Linked DNA regions of Homo sapiens: all the other regions are reported to be linked to region 3. Evidence: microRNA targets listed by miRTarBase, many of them from high-throughput screens and not tested one by one. Region 3 holds a microRNA gene; each other region holds the end of a gene's coding sequence.

Region 1 (7,000 bases), not on the chromosome of region 3:
GGCCACGGCAGTCTTCCAATGCCTGTTCCAAAGGTCTCAGCACATCCTCCATCACAGCCTCAGACTCGACTGGGAAACTTGTGGGCTCCACGCCAGAGGCAGGACCACTCCCCACAGGTGGGGACCTGGGAGCCTTACTTGAAGGAGGTGGAGGCCCCATTGGGGGAGGCCCAGGAGAAGTCTCTGATGCGGGGACTGAAAAGGTACAGCAGGATCAAGCAACATGGCTTAAATGGGTAAGAAGCTTAACTCTAAATTCACCCCTTCTAAGAAGGGCTACTCTCTGAGACAACTTATTCATTCAAAAATATGCATTTATGAAGTCCCCACTCTACGCCAGACAATATGCTAGGCACTAAAGATTAGAAAAGTAAACCAGGTGGCCGGGTGTGATGGCTCACACCTGTAATCCCAGCACTTTGGGAGGCTGAGGCAGACAGATCACCTGAGGTCAGGAGTTCAAGACCAGCCTGGCCAACATGGCAAAACCCTGTCTCTACTAAAAATACAAAAATTAGCTGGGCATGGTGGCACATGCCTGTAATCCCAGCTACTCAGGAGGCTGAGGCAGGAGAATCGCTTGAACCCGGGAGGCAGAGGTTGTGGTGAGCTGAGATGGTGCCATTGCACTCCAGCCTGGGCAACAAGAGTGAAACTCTGTCTCAAAAAAAAAAAAAAAGAAAAGAAAAGTAAACCAGGCCTGGGCACAGTGGCTTATGCCTGTAATACTAACACTTTGAGAGGCCAAGGTAGGAAGATCACCTGAGCTCAGGAGTTCAAAACCAGCCTACGCAATATAGTGAGACCTCATCTCTATAAAAAAATTTTAAAAGTTAGTCAAGTGTGGTGGCACACACCTATAGTCCTGGCTACTCAGGAGGAAGTAAACCAGACAGATTAAGTTCCTGACCTCAGAGAGCTTAATTCTAGAGGCAGGGAAAAAAACACAAAATTACTAAATTATGTTACATGCTACCAAGAAATAAAATGGTTTATGCAATAAAGAGAAATGGGAGAACCTATCTAGACTAAGTGTTCAAGGAAGGCCTTCTGAGGTACATTTAAGTTTATCTGAGCTCACTTGCTATGTGACTTTCAGCAAGTTACTTTCAACTAGAGCTTAGGTTCCTCTTCTGTAAAATGGGGATGAATATAATGCCACTTATTTCACAAGGTTGCAATGAAGATTAGGAATACAGGTACAGGCTGAGTGTGGTGACACATGCCTCTAATCCCAGCACACTGGGAGGCAGAGGCAGGAGGATCGCTTGAGCCCAGGAGTTTGAGAGCAGCCTGAGCAGCATACTAAGACCCTCTTAAAAAAAAAAAAAAAAGACAGCTGCTAGACTAGTATGTAGCAAAAAGTACAAAATGAGCTGTTTTTATTAAATTGAGAACTACCGGATGAGATAGATGCAGCTATGAAGAGTTGAAGGAACATGTACTAGGTCGAGGTTAGAGCAGTGCCCAAGAAGCAGGAAAACTTTTGATTTGTTCAAGAGACAGTAATGAGGCCTGTATGGCTAAAAATTATTACCACTGAAGAAAGTAGTATGAGCTATCATTAGAGAGGTAAGCAGAGGGTCCAGACCCTGTGGGGCTTTGGAAGAGTTTGATCTTGAGTCAATGGTACTGGGAAGCCACTGCAGGTTTGTAAAAGCAAGGGGTGATGTGACCAGACTTATTTTTAAACATGTATGCTCTGTGAAAAACTGATGAAAACAGGTCAACAGTGGTGGCAGGAACACCAGTTGAGAGGTTGAGTAGTTCAGGAAAGAGATAATGCTGGCATGGACTAGGGTAAAAGAGTAGACGAGGGGAATGGAGTAGTCTGAGATTTACTTAGGAGGAAGTAGCAACAGGAGTGGATTGAGAGTGAGGAAGAGAGAAGTCAAGGTGACTCGTAGTTTCTGACTTAGTAATGGGAACCACTAACAGAAAGAAGACTGGAAGACAAAAGTCAAAAGTTTACTTTTAGGTACCAACATCCACAAGGATGATTAATTCATCTAATAATTTGGTGTTTCAGTTGACCTCTTCACCTCCAGTGATCATTTTTTCCCACCCTACATCAGCCTGTCATCCCCCTGCCTTGTTCACACTATCACCTCCAAAATCTGATCACCCCCTTACCCCTTCCAGCTCAGCTACTTTGATTTCAATGTACATTAACATCACCCCCTTATAAATATTTTTACCTCCTTTATCTCCTCCCATTGTCCCACTTTCCTGGTTAAACCCAACTTGCTTGCACTTGGGAGGGAAAACAGAGCCATGCTGATAGTTTAAATTCATGGCCACAGATTTTAAAAGGTACCAAATACTGCCTGGACATTTTGGCTCATTTTTTCCACTCTTCAGAACTTCTCTTCCTTTCCTTGCTATCTTCTTCTGACACTGCCTAATGTTTCATTGAAAAGTAGAGGTCATTAAACAGAACTCTCTCATCTTCCCACCACCATTCCTCCTAACCCACCTGCATCTGTGGCCACTTTTCTTCCTCTTGTAATAGATGAAAAGGTTCCTGCTCCTATCAAAAGCCATCTTACCAGCTGTACTCTGCATCCTAGCCTCTCTTGTCTTCTCTAGACTTCCCTACTGTAACTATCTTCTCTTGCATCATCAGCTCCCCCTCTCTACTGAATCATCCCGTTAGTGTACAAACATGCTCTAGTATATTACTATCAAAACACTCCCTTACTTCATGTTCCATTTTCAGATACTGTCCCATTTCTTATCTCTGCAGCAGCATTTGAGTGAGCTCTTTATAGTCACTCTCTCTACTTTTCACATTCTCTCCTCAGCCCATTCCAGCTGTTTCTGTTCTCACTACTGCAGAGACTTGCTCTTGTTATGATCACGAGTGACTGCTATGTTTGTCAAATCTACTGGTTCCTTGTCGCTCTTTTTTTTTTTATTGAGATGGAGTCCCAGGCTGGAGTGCAATGGTGCGATCTCGGCTCACTGCAGGCTCCACCTCCCAGGTTCAAATGATTCTCCTGCCTCAGCCTCCCGAGTAGCTGGGATTTCAGGTGCCCGCCACTACACCTGGCTATTTTTTGTATTTTTAGTAGAGACAGGGTTTTACCACGTTGGCCAGGCTGGTCTTGAACTCCTGACCTCGTGATCCACCCGCCTTGGCCTCCAAAGTGCTGGAATTACAGGCGTGAGCCACTGCGCCTGGCCCCTTGTCTCTATCTTGATGTCTCAGCAGCATTCATTACTATTGATTCATGTCTTTACGCTCTCCTATTTTCTTTTTTTATTTTGGTTTTGTCACAGAATATCACTCTGTCGCCCAGGCTGGAGTGCAGTGGTGCGATGTCGGCTCACTGCAACCTCCGCCTCCCAGGTTCAAGCGATTCTCCTGTCTCACCCTCCCAAGTAGCTGGTATTACAGGCCCAGCTAATTTTTGTATTTTTAGTAGAGACAGCGTTTCGCCATGTTGGCCAGGCTGGTCTTGAACTTCTGATCTCAGGTGATCTGCCCACCTTGGCCTCCCCATGTGCTGGGATTACAGCCGTGACTCACTGCGCCTGGCCTCTCCTTTTTTCTTCTTTGGCCATTTCCCAATCTCCTTTGCTGATTCCTTCTCAACCTTGAAATGCTAGAGTGCCCTACGGCTCTGTCCCTGGCCATATTCAAGCCCATGACATCAAATACCATCCTTGTAATGGTGACTTATTTCTCTAATTCTGGCCTAGAACATTCCCCAAAAGTAACAGCCTAAACTTCACATGGCCCCCCAAAAAAACTCCCCCTCCCCAAAACCACCATCCCCAGTCTTCCTATATCAAGCAAAAAAATTCAGTTATATGGATTCTTCCTAATCTACTCATTCCTACTGACCTTCTCCATCTCATATCCATCCAACTCCTACCACCCTGACTCCCACCCTTATGCAAATCATTAAATCTTGCCTATATTACCATAATAGCTGTAATTTGTCTTTCCACTTCCCTAAAATCTTGTTTTCACACAGCAGACACAGTGATCTTTCCAAAATGTAAATCAGTCCCTGGTTCTCAAGCTAGGAAGATAGTGCCCACAGGGCAAATGTCTGGAAACACTTTTGGCTATCACAACTGGGTGGATGCTACTGACATCTTTTGGGTAGAAGTCAGAGTTGCTGATTAACATAAGACACAGGAAAGTCCCTCACAAAGAATTATCTGGCCACAACCTATCAATACTGCTGAGTTTAAGAAACCAAGCCTTGTATCATTCTTCTACAGCAAAAAGGGTGTGGAGAATGGAGGGCCACTGAAAGAACCAAACCTGAGCCCCTTTATGGGGGCCACGGCACAGCCCATTTAATGGCTTGGAAAATTCTCGGGGGGAAAGGTGGCTCTCCTCTACTTTAAACTTTTCAATGGCTTCTAACTTTATGTAGATTAAAATACAAATTCCTCATCCTGCTTTACAAAGCCCACTATGCTGTAGCCAGCCACTCTGTATTTCATCAGTCTCTGAATTGGCCAAACTTATTCCTTTTGCAGCTGTTTCTTTTGCTTGGAATGCTTTTGTACATGATCTTTGTGTGGCTTAAATGTCAGCCCCTCAGACACCTCGTTACCCAGTCATATTACATCACCGCTTATTTTCTGTAGCACCCTCACCACTATTTCATCTTTCAGCCCATCTCCAGTGCTGCAACGTGGACTTCCTGAAAGCAGAGATCTTTTTTTTTTTTTTCTCACTGCTGTCTAGTTCGCCCTCAAACAGTGCCTGACTTATAGAAGTGCTCAGTAAATAACAGTGATTAAATGAATGAAAAACTGTGAAGTCTGACGATTATCATATACCTAAGTGAAGACAGAATGGACAAATGAATATGCCACTATACGGTTCTGGCAAGAGGTATAGGTTAACAAAGAAAAATAACTTCAGGATTAAAACTATATTAAAAGCCACAGGTCTGGATAAGATCATCTAGGATGAAAAAATAGTCTTTTTAAATCAATACACCATTTATTAACCTGAGCAGCAGAGAAGGGGCTCGGAAAAGCACCTGCTCTGAGACCCTTACTGGAGCCCCAAAACTTCTCTCCTTAAGGAGCCCTCGGGGAGAGAAAAAAGCCTTCCAAACAGGCTTATGCCTTACACCCCCCCCCCCCCATTCTCCGTCTGTCTCCGAGCACAGGGGCCCCACGCACCTCTGGGGGATCCATCCTGGGGTGCGGCGACCCTCTTGGTAAGCAGCGAGCGCCTGGGTCCGCCGGCCTGGGTCTGCAGCCCGTATGAGAACTGCGGCGGGTCGTTCCAGCCGCGTTCCTTGTTGCCTGCGGAGGCGAGGGATGTGTGAAGCGAGCCCGGAACTCCACTGTTAGCTTATACTGGGGCTGGGGGAGACAGAGGGTCCATACTAAGCGCCGCAACCGCCCCCAGCCTAGGCCGGGGCGACAACCTAGTGCCCTAGCCCGCCGGCTGCGCTCACCCGGCTTCACGTACAGCTCCGCCATCTCCACTTCCGCTTGGCCAGCGGGGCAGCGCGTCATTTCCGGGGCGGCCCCTCACGCGGGCCAGTTGAGACACGTCCAGGGCCAGGCGGGTTGCCGGAATCCGTGGAGGATGGATGCTGGTTCACAACCGTCGGGAGCCGCTGTGGGGACCCTGCGGCAACTCCCTAAGACTCGAAGGCTCCATCTAATGAACCATCAGGGCCCTGGTCACAAGGCACCAAAGGAGGTTGCTGTCCAGGAGCCAGTGCTCTAGGAGGCCTCATCCTCTCAGGAGCAAATTCAAACAAAGAAGCTCCTGCCCCACATACACCCCGCTGTGATCTAGCCAGGTTGACTTCTACAGCCTCCTCTTGCATTGCCCTGCACAATCTCCACATTCACGTCCGGTAGCCTCACTAGTACTCATCTTCCTTCAGTTCTCAGTTCAGATGTCAGTTCTTCAGGAGGCCTTCTGGAATGTCTCAGGCCAGGTTAAGTGTCTCACTTGAGCTCCCACGACCCTACAACCCTCTGAGATTTCGTAGGTGTATTACATCACATCTTCTGCCTTATTTGACTCTTGTTCGTTTCCCTGTCGGACAGTCTTAGAAGGTGGGACCTTGACTATTTTATTACATTCCCAGTGCCCAGCTTAGTGCCTGGCACAGGGAACTCCTTAGAAAATATGTTTGTTGAATGAAGTCAGATCTCCATCACACCCATGCTGTCATGTGACTACAGAGAGCCACCAACATCAAGCACAGACACAAAGACACTCATCTCACACAGGGTGTTAGCCCCCAGCCCTGTCCCAGGCCCAATATACTCACATCCAGTGAGGTCACTGAGGGATTTTTATTTGCACTGATTTTGCTATAAAGTGTTACTGAGGTAGAGCCAACTGTCCAGGGTTGGACAGGGGCAAGGAACACAAGGACCCAAGGAAAGGGGAGCCAGGGTCCTACGTTGTGGTGCAGTGCCTCCCAGTCATCCGTATAAACAATAAATTGGGCAATAAATAGACGGTGGACAAGGATCGGAGGGACAGGCAGAGAAGGCTTCAAGGAGTGACAGGCTATAGGCCTTGAGGAATAAAACGGTACAGAGTTAGGCATGGACCCAGAGCCTACTTCCCCAGCCTTCCCAGATAAGTTTAGGGCATATGGAGCAGAGAGGGTTTCAGCCGGAAGGCATCAAGAAAAGAGAAGACACCCCGCTTTCGAGGGGTTGCCCCTGCACCGCCAACCCCTCCTTTGAGCAGGGGGAGGGGCAGGGGACCTCCTGGGGAATCCATGGAGCTGGTCCGCTTGAGCCGCAGGCGGGCACGGGCCTGGGCACCCCAGGCCTTGCCTCGAGCTGCAGAGGCCACAAGACACTTCTGGTACTGAACCTAGGGAGAAGGGGAATGTGAGGATCCAGCTACTTTCTGCCTCTAGACTCCCTGAAAGCTTCTGCAGGACAGGGAACTGGCCAAAGCTTCTGTCTGATAACAAGGTTGGTAGTCAGCCACATGTGGAGTTTCTAGAGCATTCCCAGGTAGCTCAATAACAAAATCATA
Region 2 (7,284 bases), not on the chromosome of region 3:
CACCACGCCTGGCTAATTTTTGTATTTTTAGTAGAGATGGGGTTTCACCATGTTGGCCAGGCAGGTCTCAAACTCCTGACCTTGTGATCCACCTGCTTGGCCTCCCAAAGTGCTGGGAGTACAGGCATGAGCCACCGCGCCCGGCCCAAAAGCCCCTTATAAGACCGTCAGATCTTGTGAGAACTCACTCACTATCACGAGAACAAGATGGGGGAAACTGCCCCCATGATGCAATTATCTCCACCTGGTCCCTCCCGCGACATGTGGGGATTATGGGAACTACAATTCAAGATCGAGATTTGGGTGGAGACACAGCCAAATCATCACATTTATTATTTTAAAACTGCCATTTATTAAGTGTTTATTATGTGCCAGGTACTTTACATTGACCTTATTTAACCCTTATGTGGTGACGCAGACAGGACTTATTAGGTTAACTGAGGTTCGTGGCCATCCAGTGACATAATGGCAGAGCCACTCAGGTCTCTCAATATAAACACAAATCTGTTTTCTTTTATTCTTAAGCATTTCCACCCTTGAGGAGGAGAAGGGAGGGGAGCAGGGTACAAGTCACAGAGAACCTTTGTGATAAGTAGACCTATTAGGGTGGAACAAGGACTCAGTTTTGGTTCCCAAAATGGGAAGGAAACGTCTGTCTTCGGGGTTATAAGACCTTTGTTAGTGGTAAGGCCAGTCTGGAGCATGGTCTGAGTCTTAGTTCAGGATCCTCTGGACCTTGAAGAGAATGAGGTGATCCCCAGAAGGATCTGGGCCTTCTGAGCTGAGACGTCGCAGCATACTGCATGCCACATTCCACATTTCTGAGCAAGAGATCCCTTCTTGGAAGGGAAGCAGAAATGAGGTTGGATAAAAGCCTGGCCTTTTGGGGCAGGTAGACCTAAATTTTGTCTTTATCGGTTACCAGCTATGAGACCCTGGGGAAGTTACTTTTTTGTGCTTCAGTTTCCTCATCTATAAAATCAGATGTCCATGGGTCCACATCAAAGGGTGATGCTGACCCCATGAGAGAGTGTGCATAAAACAGCACAAGGCTTGGCATGAAGAAACGCTTAATAACTTATAATTTATTTTTAAGGTTAAACCCATTCATTTTCTATATTTGGAGGTAGAAAGTAGGAAGTGTCTAGACGGGCCTGGCAAGGAAGAGGGCGTAGATAGTGCTTCTGATCACCTGTGACTCCTTCCTCTGTTGCAGCCCCCCATGGGTGAGGAGGGCAACCACAAGCGACACTCAGTGGTAGCAGGAGGTGGCGGCGGTGAGGGCAGGAAGCGGTGCCCCTCCCAGTCTTCCAGCAGGCCTGCTGCCATGATCAGCCAACCCCCTACACCACCCACCGGCCAGCCTGTCCGGGAAGATGCCAAATGGACAAGCCAGCACTCGAACACACAGACTTTGGGAAAGTGAAAAGCTCCTTAGCCCTGGGGCTTGAGGGGGGAAAGGGGTAGGGTGGGTAAGAGTCCATGGGGGTGCCCAGTCCCAGGAAAGGGGACAATGAAGGGACAGGCCTGGAGTTACTAGGACAGGCCTTTGTGCTGAGTAGCAATGTATACACCATTTGGGCTATCAGAGGTACCCCTGGGCAGGAGCCTCTACATCCCCTTCCCCCTCCTCTCTCCATGACTCTTGACATCCTAGCTTCTTCTAAGGGGGGAGGGAAAGGGGGGAGATTTTTATATATATATACATATATATATATCAAGTTTTAAATTATTGATAGTTCATCTGGATTACCAAAATCACTCTGCAGCCCTGCCCGAGGCTAGTAGGCTGCAACCCTGGTCCCCACCCCTAACCTCCTGCTCCCCCTCAAGCCAACTATGCAGCCCACAAGAAGGCCCTGCGGGCCCCCCCATTGCCCAGCACTGTCTCATAGAAGGCTCTGGTGGTACCTCTGGGCCCCAGGAGCATCAGCCCCTTGATCATCTGGGGTTTGTCATCACCATATTTTCTCCCTGCTGTTCCCACCATGCCCTTCTGCCATCTTCTGGGAGAAGGAAACCAAAGGATCTAAAACTGGGGTTTGGGGGAAGGTTTCAGCCTCTCCCCACTCCCCTTGCCCCACACCCTTTACTCCCCAGCCCAGAGAGACGCTGCTTTTACCAGGAAAGACTATTGAAAGATGTTTTATTTTATTTTTCTCTGACCTTTCCATCCTTGAAAAAATGGGGAAAAAAGAAGAAAAAAGACAAAATCGACCATAAAAGACCAAAAAAAAAAAAAAAATCAGAAAACCCCCACCTAATCCACAGAAAGTAATGTCTTTCCCCTCCCCTTGGAATTTTTGTTTTGTTTTTGGAAATAATATTTTTTTAAAAGTTGCCTTATTGTGGAGCGGGAATCTGAAATACCCAAATGCCTGTTTTCCTCGGTGGAGTCAACCCGAAGAGCTCCCACCTTCTCTGGATGTGCCTGGGCTTGGACTGGCTAGAATCTTTCTCTGGACTGTTGCATGTACAGTGCCTCCATCCTGGAGGCAAGAGAGTTGGGAGTGGCTCGAATCAGAGCCGTGCCCAAGATATCCCTGCTGTTGCATCGTTTGAAGCTGACGTCCTGTGTCTGTACACTGCTGCCACTGTTGTGTCCTCGCTCTGCTTGCTGTTGCCTCACGCCAGGCCCCGTCCTGCCGTGACACCCTTCATCCTACCCTTGGAACCCCAAGGCCAAGTTGGTTCAAACTGTTGGAGAACAGAGTTGGCCTGCATCTGGAACACACTTGTCCTCAGCTTACCATCTCCTCACACCCCAGAGTGGAAAGGTGAACACCTGCAGCTGAGGCTTGGAAACGTTTCTTGTGTTGCCCTGAAAAATCTTTGAGACCTCAGGGAGGCTCTGTCTCTCTTAAAAGGTGGAGAAAGATGCCATTCTCTCCCTAAGGTCTGGTGGAGTCTCCCCATCTTGCATACCCTTCTGCAAGCCATCTATCTCTGCTCACTCTCCAATTGACCCGCCTGGGAACAAGGGATGAGGAGGAGTTGGGGGCTGGGGGGAATCCTGCCAGTTGGTGAAGCCCTGTGGCAGGAAGGTATATGTGGACATAGAGTATACCTGATTCTCTTTCTTCAGCCACTGACTGCTTGGGTTGGGCTGTGAATGATAATGGAATGGCTGGAGTCTGCTGTTGTCAGAAGGCAGGGAGGGTGATGAAGGACTGACCCACATGGACTGGGATGTGTGTCGGTTATGGGCATGACTGCACGTTCACTCTCAGTGGGATCTGGGCAACATGGAGTTCATTGTCCTGTTGCTTACTTACTGCAATGTCTTTGGCCCTCCTTTTCAACTGGTTCCTCTGTTGGGCCCAAAGGTTGGGAGTAGGAGACAGTATCCCAGGCTGACAAGGGCTTGCCCTTTACCTTGGGCACCTTGTTAATTTTTAGCCTGTGCCCTTCCCCACCTTTGCCCTCCCAGTGGTTGGTATGTGGGAAGCCCATCTCAGTTCCTGTGACTTCATGTCTCAAACCAAGGATGAGCGTCTGGTCTCTGCTATGATGGTGGTATCCGAGGCCTTTCCCTGCCCAGTCTGGTGCCTGCCCCACATTGTACCGGACACTGGATTCCTGGACCCCCTTCTCCTTTCCTTTCTTTCCTTCAGGTCACGCAGCCCTGTACTGTATCCAGCACCACAGAAACCTCAGTGTTTTTCCTCTGCTGGTTTGGGGCACAAGGAAGCCTTAGGGTATGGGGAAAGGCTGTTATTACCTAGAGTTTACTCCCAGGCCAGGGGGCTGCCATCTTCTTCACAGACATCCCTGAAAGGAAGCCCCTTTGGGGCAGGGAGGTGAGGACTTCATCTCAACATCGGCTGGTGGTTGGTAGGGGAGCTTTTTCTTTTCTTTCCTTTTTTTTTGTTTTTGTTTTTGTTTTTGTTTTTGGTAACATGTTAGGAGTTAATGTTGCAAAGAGTAGTTTACATCTTCACTTTCTGAAGACACTTGAATTTAGGACCGATGTATCTGTGACAAGCATGCCAGAAGTGGCAGGGGCCATCAGGGCTAACCACTTCACACCTACCATCGTCCCATGGGGATCCAAGACCTGAGATAAAGCAACAGCCTGCCCAGATCCCTCTGTTCATCCTATCCCTTCCAAGGTTGGTCCATGCCAACATAACCTCTGGGCATCAGACATCAGCAGGTCTGTGTGCCTCAGCCCTGTTAAGGGGCAGGTTTCTCTTTAGCCCTCTTCCTGCACTTGGGAGCAAAGGCACTACCAGTAGAGAAGGGCCATCCAGCCGTGCCCCAGCCTGGACCCCTGGGGCTCAGATAGAGGTGCTGAGCCCCTGTGTCAAAGTTGTTAAATGTTTTTGTTTTGTTCCATTGTAGCTCTTTTTTTTTTTTTTTCCCCTTTCCTGGTGATTGATTTTACAAAAGAAAGTAAGCTGCTTAGAAGGCCCTGGAAGGGAAGTGAGGAGGAGGGACAAGGAAGATGACTAGTTACGGAGGGTGAGGGTTGTTTTTTGCCAAAAAGCCTGGGTAGAGTGATCTGAATTATCTGGCACCCTCCTGAATGGAACCCCAGAGTACCTCCTGTGTGGAAGGGTCCCTGGATTTTCCCTAACACCCACCCTCTCCCCCTTCAGCCATGCTGATGGCAGAGAAGATAAGAACTTGGAGCCCATTTCTCACTGGAGAGGAAAACTTGTCATCTGGCTTTGCGGAGAAGGTTCCACCTTACGCTCGTAGTACATTATCTTTACTATGTGCTAGGATATCATATTTAAAAGGACAAAAAAATGTAAAATACTTGAATGAGCTTGTATTATAACATTAATATTATTGAGAGTATCTGCTTTCCAGGCTGAAGTGATTCATTCATTATTCTAGTCCTGCTTTAGTCCTTTGTAATTTGTGGTAATTATGCTTTTCTTTTTAATACAAAAAAATGTATAAAAATAAACACTTGAAAAGGCAAAATACTGGCTGGTCTTCCATCTAGGTTACTGCTATTGGGTGTGAAGGATGGGTTTCTGGTAGAGTTCCCCCAGATCCGGAGGAACCCTGCACTCAATGTGCACATGAAACCTCGGCAGGGGTTCTGCCATTGGGCTTCGAGGAGTCTGCCTAAGGCAGGGGCTTCTACAAGCCTTGAGTTCATGTCCACCCTGTGTCTTAAGTGAGACGTGACAGTCATAGCCAGTGCCACAAAACAGCAGTCCAGCATAATGCCAGGATTTCAGCGCACTTGTCAGCTTCCAGGTTTTCCATCCCCTGGCTGTGGCCTGCATTGTGTTATGAGACAGCCAAGAAGAAAAACGATGAGGCTTCTTATGGAGGGTTGCCACAACCCCTCTATGAACAGACTTTTCCACAGGGGGGTGAAGGAGGAATGATCCAGCACCATGTGGACTTACGGAATCCTGGTCAGCCCCGAACCCTGAGATGTGATGCTGGGGAGGGATGGAACAAAGAGTCCCCCATTCCCCGTATAAATTACAAAACTAAAAATGGGGCATGGCCTTATTTACGTGTTCATCTGACAACTGTCTCCCATACCTGGCTTGGGTAAATGGTTTTTCCAGAGAGTGCTTTTTCACTGTTCTTGAGGTTGGCAGGTACTTCAGTACCACCAGTGACCTCCACAGGCCAAAGGAAAGTTTAGGAGATAGTGTCCAGGGCTGATGCAGACGGATTGGTACTTTGAAAACAGAAAGATGAATTAATTGAAACTTACTTTCACAAATTATCGTTAGGAATGCTCACAGCAGCTTAATTTCACAGCCTGAGCTTCCAAATGCTATGTCTGAAGTATTAGAAGTCTTGTAGTAGACACCTCCCTTCAAAAAAAAATTATCCACTGGAATTCATGAAGACCAGTTTATTTTACATGCTTGCTTTCACATTCTTTACTGGGAATTTAAGGCCTTTTTTCAGCCTTAACTTGTATACCAACCTCAAGGATTTTGTTTGATACAGAAAAGGATAGGGCTGGGCCCTTCTGCCAAGGACTGATAACCTGCCTGCCAAAAGGAAGAGGGAATGAAAGCCTTTTGTCCTTCTAGGCCCCTTACAGTACCTCAAAATCTAAAGGCCTTAAAGGGGAAAAAAACCGTATCTGTTCTTTCTCCTTATCTCCTACCCTTCTCTTTAAGCATATTGAAGATGGACTTTTTTCCAAATGTTTATTTGTAGGAAGAGGTGATGAGTGCAGGCCAGCAGCTGAGAACTTACAGCTTTGATGCACCAGGAACTGTATTCAAGCTGAGGGCAAAAGCCTCCTAGGGAGGGAGCCAGGTCCACCAAGGCCAGAGACAGACAGGCGAGACTGTGGAAGGCCAGGGAGATGCTGCCTGGTAAGTGCTCAGCTGGCCTACTGGGCAAGTCCTCTGGGGTTCTAGAGCTGATAGGAAGAAGGAGTCCATTTTGATAGTCCTGCCTGGAGACTTGGACCTAGCTGATACTAAGGTATTTTATAAAGCTACAGTGGATGTTTTTCTTAAGAGAACTGAAAGTTGGAAAAGGCACAAGTATATATAAGAATTTAGTAAAATGATAATGGTGGTCTTTCAAATCAAAGAGTGATCTTTAAATTGTTCTTGGGAACCACAGGGTTCCTGGCCATGTCTGGCGGCTGAGAGGAGGCCAGGATGGGGACTTCAACCCAAGCAGCTGTGGTTTTGCCTTTGATAAGGTTCCTGGTAAAAATCATCTTGAATAAATGTTGCTGAGAAACTGGTAAAGCATTCGGGGGAGAAAGGATTTTGCTCTTTGCTCTGCCATGTTTTTCCGGGCTCTTTCTTCGGGGAGAAAGAGGGCTCTAACCTTTGGTCCTCATTCAGATAGGCTAATTAGGGGTCTCGGGTGTCCCCAAAGGGCAGCAACTTTGACCCCTCCCCTTGTGGGTAAAAGGGCTTTTCACAGTTTCCCAGCAGTTGGTTTTTGGTTTCCACATAAGGCTAAAGGTGTTAAAGTTTGGTCTGCACCTCGTTGGTTTTAATCCAGGGAGGAGCTCCTGGATTTCTTTTTCTCCCCCACAGAGGGAAACCTTTTGTTTGCGGTGGGCCAGAGTTAAAACGGGGCCTTTACCACTCACTCAGAGTGTTTGGTGTGTGTATGTTTGTGTGTGTGTTGGGTGAAGTGGCGACTGGCATCTGGTATGTCATGAATTGAGACCTATAATGATTTGCCAGGGTGTCTTGGCTCTGGCCTGAGTCGGGTATGTGAAAGCCTTTTGGGGCAGGAAGGGGCAAAGTGATACCTGGCCGTCCCACCCTCTGGTCCCAGAAGGAGCTCTCGCTGGAGCCAGGCAGCCTCCAGTCCCCCTCC
Region 3 (7,284 bases):
AAAAATACCAAAATTAGCCAGGCGTGTTGGCGGGCGCCTGTAGTCCCAGCTACTCGGGAGGCTGAGGCAGGAGACGAGCGTGAACCCAGGAGGCGGAGCTTGCAGTGAGCCGAGATTGGGCCACTAACTCCAGCCTGGGCGACAGATCGAGACTCTGTCTCAAAATAACAACAAAAAACAACTCACAATGTTTAAGAAAATTTATAGATTTGTGTTGGGCTGCATTCAAAGCTGTTCCATGGGCCAACAGTTGGACAAGTTTGCCCTAGATCATGGGGTCTTTGTGCTCTGAGAATGGGCGAGTTTGGGATGGACTCAGCTTTCTGTTGGTTGGCCCTGGATCTGGATCTGGTGCTGCCCCCTTTCTCTGGAGCACACAAAGGGAACAAGAAGGCCTGGACTTGGGCAAGGAAGCCATCCACAGGGCTCCCCAGAAGCCAGGGCCACCAGGAGCTCACTGCTGTGCAGAGGCAACTCGGCTTGGTTATTTCTTGCCTGAGGCAGGGAACAGGGAATGCAGGGAAGCCAGGCAGCAGCAGGAGGCTCCAAACGCTGGTGTCAGCAAGCCAGAACCCCCACCTGACTTCACTCCTGTCTGCCCAGCTCACAGTCGCCTGTCACTGGGAGGTCCTTGGGGCCTGGACCTGCCTGACCTGTGGCCCCAGAAGGGGCTAAGCCCAGAGTCACATGGGATGGAGCCTGGAATGCATAGGCCAAGTGGGTTGTGCCTGGGCAGCAGGCCTGGGATATGAGGGGCCTACTCCTCCATCCACAGCCCCGACCCACATTCTGGAGGGATGGTCGTACCTCTGTGACCAGCCCTCCACACCGTCACATAGGCCAGCAGGGGGCAATGCCAGGTGCCATCCAGAGCCCACCCCCATGTCCTCCCGGAGGTCATGAGCTCTGCCCTACGTACCCCAGCCCCACAATGGGAAGGAGGCATGGAGCTGGCAGAGCATGCGCCACGCCGTCCCTGTGTGTGTTTCTGAGGAACTCCTGTTCACTCTGAGGCCACTGCCTAGGTGCCCGTCCCTGGTCTGCTGCTGCTGGCTCTGATGAAGCTAACCAGCCTTCTTCCCCACCAAGAGGGTGTCCCAGCAGCAGCTATGGCTATGTTCCGGCGGGGGGAAGGCGGGGAGCCTTCCTCCTCACTGGCTGTTTCATTTTTTTATTTTTTTGAGGCAGAGTCTCTCGTCACCCAGGCTGGAGTGCAGCGGCGTAATCTCGTCTCGCTGCAACCTCCACCTCCCAGGTTCAAGCGATTCTCTTGCCTCAGCCTTCCAAGTAGCTGGGATTACAGGTGCCCACCACCATGCCTAGCTAATTTTTGTATTTTTAGTAGAGACGAGGTTTCACCATGTTGCCCAGGCTGGTCTTGAACTCCTGATCTCAAGTGAGCGATCACCCGCGTCTGCCTCCTGAAGTGTTGGGATTACGGGTGTGAGCCACCACACCCGGCCTCTCACTGGCTGTTTCAGGTGAACCAAATCCCATGGCCCCAAAAAGTGGCCAGAGTGCTTCAGATCACTCAGCAAACCTTTGAGTTGCTGAAAAGTTTACTTTTGAGTTTTAAACTGTACTTTGAAAACTATATTGTGAACTGTGTTGACATGAGGAAAGGCTGGGCTCCCTGAAAACATCCAGTTCCACAGCAGGGCGGGCCCAAGCCCAGCCAATCCCCAGGCAATGCAGGGCAGGGATCCCACCTGGTGTAAGTACGGGCAGAGGGCAGAGCCAGGCTGTATCGAGGGGCGGCGCTGGGACCCTCCTCGCCCAGAGTTCCTACTCATCCCCAGCACAGAAGTGCTCTGTAGGGCCAGCTGAGGACACCCCGGTTCACTGAGGGTGGCCCACAGTAAGTCGCCGTCTGGCAGTAAGTTAGCTCTGCAGGTGTGGACCCCAAGACCACACACAGCCTTTCTCAGGTGCAGGTCCTGCCAAGCCTCACTTCGCAGTGGTGACAGGCAACCCCGTCAGGGCAGGGAGCTTCCAAAGGCCAGTCCGAGTCCATGCCAGGCGTCCACTAAATCTGCCTCTCCCTCTCCAGCGAGCAGGTGCAGCCCTCAACTCCTGCAGGCCTGGGGAGCGGAGACAGGGCCTGTAGGCTCGGACACGACCCGGTCCTGATTTTAACAGTAGACTTGAGAAGGCAGGCTCAGCAGACAGGCTGCTGGAGGATCCACCCGCTGTCTCCCGCAGCGGCCCCACTGAAGCGGCAGAAACACACAGAAGCACCAAATCTGTCACTCTCTTCCCGTAGGAAGTCCCCAGAGGTGGCCCTCCGGAGGATGGTCCTGTTGGCTGAAGATATGACCACACCTGTGCCTGCCCAGGGCCACCTTCAGCTTGGCAACAGGAACTCCGCACACTGGTACCCTGGACACACAAGGAAAAGAAAGTTCCCTCCAAGAGGGTATCTGGCCCAGCCTCAGCCCCACCAAGCGGAGGGCAGCAAAGCCCCCGAATGATTTCGCTTACCCCCACCCGCCGTCCCTGCTGGCCAGACAGGCACACCCCGTCCATAGGGCACCCCCTCCCCACGGTATCCAGCTGCCCTCGCGTCCCCGTGTGGCCGCTCGCCTGCCCGCCAGACCCGGACACGGGGCCAGGAGGGTCGCGCTGCCCAGGCACAGATCAGCCGCTGTCACACGCACAGTGGGTCTGGGGCAGCGCAGTGTGCGGTGGGCAGGGGCTGCCCTGCGCCTGGAGGCACTGCCGGGTGGGCGGGCGGAGGGATTGACCCCACCCCCGTCCCCTCCAACTTGGGCGTCCGAGCCCCGCCGCGCCTGCCCAGCCCGACCCCCCGCAGCCCCCGCGGGAGGGCGGCCTCTGAGGGGCGCCCCGCCCGCCAACCTGGGATCCCTCGCGCGTCACCTGCGACCCCGGCGCGGGGCCGTCGCCGGCTCTCGGCCCAACTTCAGCTGCGGCCGCTGGCACCCTCTCGCCCCCCGGCCCGACCCGACCGGCCCCGGGCCCCGCGGCTCCACGCCCAGCCCCGTATGCAAATGACCTGGTCCCTCAGCCAATGGCCGGCCTAGCCGGGCCCGCCCTACCGCAACGCAGCCAGTGGGCGCGAGGGGGGTTCGCGACGCCCCGCCCACCGCCGCGCGGCCCTTCGCGGGCGAGGCCGGCGCGTTCTTTTCTGCACGTCTGCCCGGGGAGGGGCGGCACCTGCCGGGCGGGGCCTGCGGGGCGCCAGCTGCGAGGGCGCGGCGGGGCCAGGGCGCGTCCCCCGGCCGGGCGGATGGTACGGCCCGAGGTGGTCCTCCTCCCGCCGCGCGGTGGTATGGCCCGGGCTCGCGGGGCTTCCGGGCTGGGCGTGGGGCGCAGCCTGGCGACGGGTCCTCCGCCCGCGGGTGTGCGTGGGGCGGCAGGGCCGGCCGGGAGCTGCCCCTCTTCCCGCGGCGCGGTGGTACGACCCGGCCGCCTCCGTGCCCCGCACCCGCGTCCCGCGGGCCCGCCCCCCCCAACCCGCTGGGCGCCCGGCGCACGTATCCCGGGCCGTGACCCGGGTGGGGCCTGCGCGGGCCCGGACACGGCGTCCTCGGGACGCACGCACCACCCCCCGGGCGGCTTGGGGTCCCCAAAGGACGCCCGGGTCCGTCCTGCTGGCGAAGAGGGGGCTCTGGCTCTGCCTGGTTTGCCTGGCGACCCCCACGGGGCGCCCTTGGGGGCTCTGGGTCCCTCCTGCGCGCTCTGTCTCCGCGGAAGCCTCTGGAGCCTGGAGGGGGTGCCTCAAGGGCTCAGGGGTCTTCGCAGCCCTGTGCCGGTCTTTGAGGGGACGAGGCGAGAGAATCCTGTCTGTGCGCTGAAAACGTGTAAAATCAAAGGAGCCTTGACGGTTTGACCTTCGTTAGGACTCGCAGGGCCAGCTTCAGACGTGGAAGTATCGGACTCCGGGGTGGGGCTCCAAAGTGGCAGCCAAAGGAGATTTGGCCGCCGGCCCCCCTTGGCACTGTCACCCTGGTCCTCGGCCCCGGGCCGTCTCCCCTCAGCTCCCTGGCCCTAAACTCACCGCCCTGCTCTTTGTCCTCCCCTGGCCCCATGACCTCCCTGCCTCGGCATCCGCGCAGGCCTGGGCCGCAGCCTGCCCCCTGCCCCAGCCCCGGCGGCAAAGTGCTGGGGCCCCAGGGAGCTTCCGAACCAGCCCATGTCCTCAGGGGCTTGAAGGCTGGGGACAAAAATTCAGATGCAGAGTCTGGGGTGACTCAGACATGATCAGCAAGACATGACCGAGGTCTTGCTGACCCCTTGACCCTTGGCCCCCGATAGAACCGAGTGGCTCCTTGCACCTGTGGCTGCCTGTGGATGGGGAAGGTGCCCAGAGGATCACGGAGCCACTCGGTTCTATTGGGGGTCAGGGGTCAGCAAGACCTCGATCCTGTGGGTCGTGAAGGAGCCTCTAAGAGTCAGTGGGGTCCCTGAGAAGGCCCACGTCTTCATGGCAGGGCAGAGGCTCCTAGGGCAGTCAGACTAGGGGACAAGAAGGGGCAAGAGGACAGGGCAGCTCTGTGTTCCTGTCGTGCCCTGCTGACGTGAACCCACTTCTGCCCCCAGTCCTGCCAATTTCACAGGCACCTTTTCTCAGCATCTGTAGTGAGTGGGATGGTCCCTCCGCCAAAAAGAAGATATATCCACATCCTAATACCCAGGCTTCCTAAATGTGCCCTCATCGGGAGAAAGCATCTTTGCAGATGTCATTAAGGGAAACATCTTGAAACGAGATCATCCTGGACTTTCTGGGTGGGCCCTAAATCCAATGATCAGTGTCCTTATAAAAGACAGGGAAAACAGGCCGGGTGTGGTGGCTCAAGCCTGTAATCCCAGCACTCTGGGAGGCCGAGGTGGGCAGATCACCTGAGGCCAGGAGTTTGAGGCCAGCCTGGCCAACATAGTGAAACCCCATCTCTACTAAAAATACAAAAAAATCAGCCGGGCATGGTAGTGTGAGCTTGTAATCCCAGCTACTTGGGAGGCTGAGGCAGGAGAATCGCTTGAACCTGGGAGGTTGGCAGTGAGCTGAGATCACGCCACTGCACTCCAGCATGGGCAACAGAGTACGACTCTGTCTCAAACAGACAAACAAAAAACACAAAAAAAGAGAGAAGGCCGGGCGCGGTGGCTCATGCCTGTAATCCCAGCACTTTGGGAGGCCGAGGAGGGTGGATCACCTGAGATCAGGAGTTCGAGACCAGCCTGATCAACATGGAGAAACCCCGTCTCTACTAAAAATACAAAATTAGCCGGGCGTGGTGATGCATGCCCGTAATCCCAGCTACTCGGGAGGCTGAGACAGGAGAATCACTTGAACCTGGGAGGTGGAGGTTGAGGTGAGCCGAGATCGCGCCATTGCACTCCAGCCTGGGCAACAGAGCAAGACTCCGTCACAAAAAAAAAAAAAAAAAAAAGGCTGGGCGCGGTGGCTCACGCCTGTAATCCCAGCACTTTGGGAGGCCGAGGCAGGCGGATCACGAGGTCAGGAGATCGAGACCATCCTGGCTAACACAGCGAAACCCTGTCTCTACTAAAAATACAAAAAATTAGCCGGGCGAGGTGGCGGGCGCCTGTAGTCCCAGCTGCTCGGGAGGCTGAGGCAGGAGAATGGCGTGAACCCGGTGGGCGGAGCCTGCAGTGAGCAGAGATTGCACCACTGCACTCCAGTCTGGGCGACAGAGCAAAACTCTGTCTCAAAAAAAAAGGAGAGAAAGAGAAAAGAGACACAGACACAGAGGGAGGCCATAGGAAGCCATAGCCAAGGAACGCCTGGAGATGAAGCTGGGAGAAGAAGGACCTCCCCAGATCCTCAACAAGGAGGGTGGCCCTGCCAGCCTGGATCTCTGACTGCTGGCTTCCAGACTGAGAGAATGCCTTTCTGTTGTCTAAGGGCTCTGGTTTGTGGCCGTTTGATATGACAGCCCTGGGACACACAGACACCTGCCTTCCCTAGGTAGAGAATGCAGCCCTGCCTGTTCCCTCCCCCAGCTCTGAGAGTTTTGACTCCTTTGTTCTCTCCCCACCCACCTCCTCCAGCCACCCCTGCCCCTGCCTCCCCCAGGCATCCACCTGGCTCTGGGGCTCCCTGCTGCTGGGAGTGGGATGGGTCTCAGCAGGGGGCGATGACTGGGCTCATTGCCCACCAAGCCCTGTATGTGCACACGGACCTGATGGTGGGGTGGGGGGCAGGGGTGGGAAGGGGCTGGGCTAGGCCCTCCGGGATAAGCTGGCCTGGCGGGACAGAAGCAAGGGAGCTCCCAGCCCAGCTCCATCCTCCCGTGCACACCAGGAGCATGCACACCATGCTTGCGTCTGCAAGGGGCAGGGGCAGCACACGGCAGTGTCGACCAGGAATCTGGCCGGAGCCTCAGAGTACAGGTCTGTGTGAGGCTGTGTGGGCAGGATGCACATGTGTGCACACTGACACTAGCAGGTGATGGGGGTTGGGGGGTGACCCGTCAGTGTACGGGGGAGGTGACAGTACTGATGAGGGGGTTGTATACAGGAGGTGTCTGCCTGCTGGTGTGTGAGGCATCTATCCACGTGCGAGCAGGTAAGGAGTCATTTTATGTCAGGTGTGTGGGTAGCGGTGGGGGTGGGAGTCAGGAGGTATTGGTATGTGCCCCTGCTCTCATGCTCTCAAGTACCACCTATGCACAGTTTGGGCCTAGTTTGGCTCTGGGCAGCTGCCTGGAGATACTTCTCACACCTGAGCCTGAGTGCTGTCTGACATACCTGGGTTGGTTGTGCACTGACCAAGGATTATGCTCACTGAGGACGTCCTTCATGTCTCCATGTGGATGTCTGTGTTTATTTATTTTTTATTTTTTTGAGACGGAGTCTCGCTGTCGCCCAGGTTGGAGTGCAGTGGCGTGATCTCGGCACTGCAGGCTCCGCCCCCTGGGGGTTCACGCCATTCTCCTGCCTCAGCCTCCCGAGTAGCTGGGACTACAGGCGCCCGCCACCTCGCCCGGCTAATTTTTTGTATTTTTTTTTTTTAGTAGAGACAGTTAGCCAAGATGGTCTCGATCTCCTGACCTCGTGATCCGCCCGCCTCGGCCTCCCAAAGTGCTGGGATTACAGGCGTGAGCCACCGCACCTGGCGTTTATTTATTCATTTATTTATTTTTGAGACAGAGTCTCACTCTGTTGCCCAGGCTGGAGTGCAGTGGCGCGATCTTGGCTCACTGCAGCATCTGCCTCCCAGGTTCACGCCATTCTCCTGCCTCAGCCTCCCGAGTAGCTGGGACTACAGGCACGCGTAACCATGCCCAGGTAACTTTTGTA

What was found. Region 3 holds the annotated microRNA hsa-miR-210-5p (AGCCCCUGCCCACCGCACACUG, at 2,676-2,697, opposite strand). A microRNA usually pairs through its seed, bases 2 to 8, with sites in the 3' UTR of a target mRNA and lowers its output. Matches are read on the target gene's strand: a 7mer-m8 pairs with bases 2 to 8, a 7mer-A1 pairs with bases 2 to 7 and ends in A, and an 8mer does both.
Region 1: the mRNA of APBB3 is a reported target of hsa-miR-210-5p. The part of its 3' UTR that is shown has no 7-base or 8-base seed match.
Region 2: miRTarBase lists LARP1 as a target of hsa-miR-210-5p. Seed matches in the 3' UTR shown: 7mer-m8 at 4,000-4,006 and 7mer-A1 at 4,180-4,186.

Annotation. Positions count from the first base shown.
Region 1 is chr5:140,551,990-140,558,989 of GRCh38, forward strand. APBB3 (amyloid beta precursor protein binding family B member 3) reads right to left here. Exons shown (of 13, transcript NM_133173.3): 13 at 6,279-6,832. The coding sequence ends at 6,596. SRA1 (steroid receptor RNA activator 1) reads right to left here and starts at 5,484. Exons shown (of 5, transcript NM_001035235.4): 1 at 5,439-5,484; 2 at 5,158-5,283; 3 at 1-195. The coding sequence starts at 5,463. RefSeq lists a silencer at 4,044-4,193 and enhancers at 4,717-5,538, 5,404-5,763, 5,854-5,913.
Region 2 is chr5:154,812,671-154,819,954 of GRCh38, forward strand. It overlaps LARP1 (La ribonucleoprotein 1, translational regulator), which reads left to right. Exons shown (of 19, transcript NM_033551.3): 19 at 1,217-4,935. The coding sequence ends at 1,426. FAXDC2 (fatty acid hydroxylase domain containing 2) reads right to left here. Exons shown (of 9, transcript NM_032385.5): 9 at 5,822-7,284. Among named protein-coding and RNA genes, the nearest start is that of MIR378H, 13 kb to the right of the region's middle.
Region 3 is chr11:565,475-572,758 of GRCh38, forward strand. MIR210 (microRNA 210) reads right to left here and starts at 2,724; the gene lies at 2,615-2,724. LOC124902805 (translation initiation factor IF-2-like) reads left to right here and starts at 6,120. Exons shown (of 4, transcript XM_047428004.1): 1 at 6,120-6,170. The coding sequence starts at 6,120. MIR210HG (MIR210 host gene) reads right to left here and starts at 2,983. Exons shown (of 2, transcript NR_038262.1): 1 at 2,878-2,983; 2 at 183-2,379. RefSeq lists enhancers at 220-774, 775-1,329, 3,915-4,665.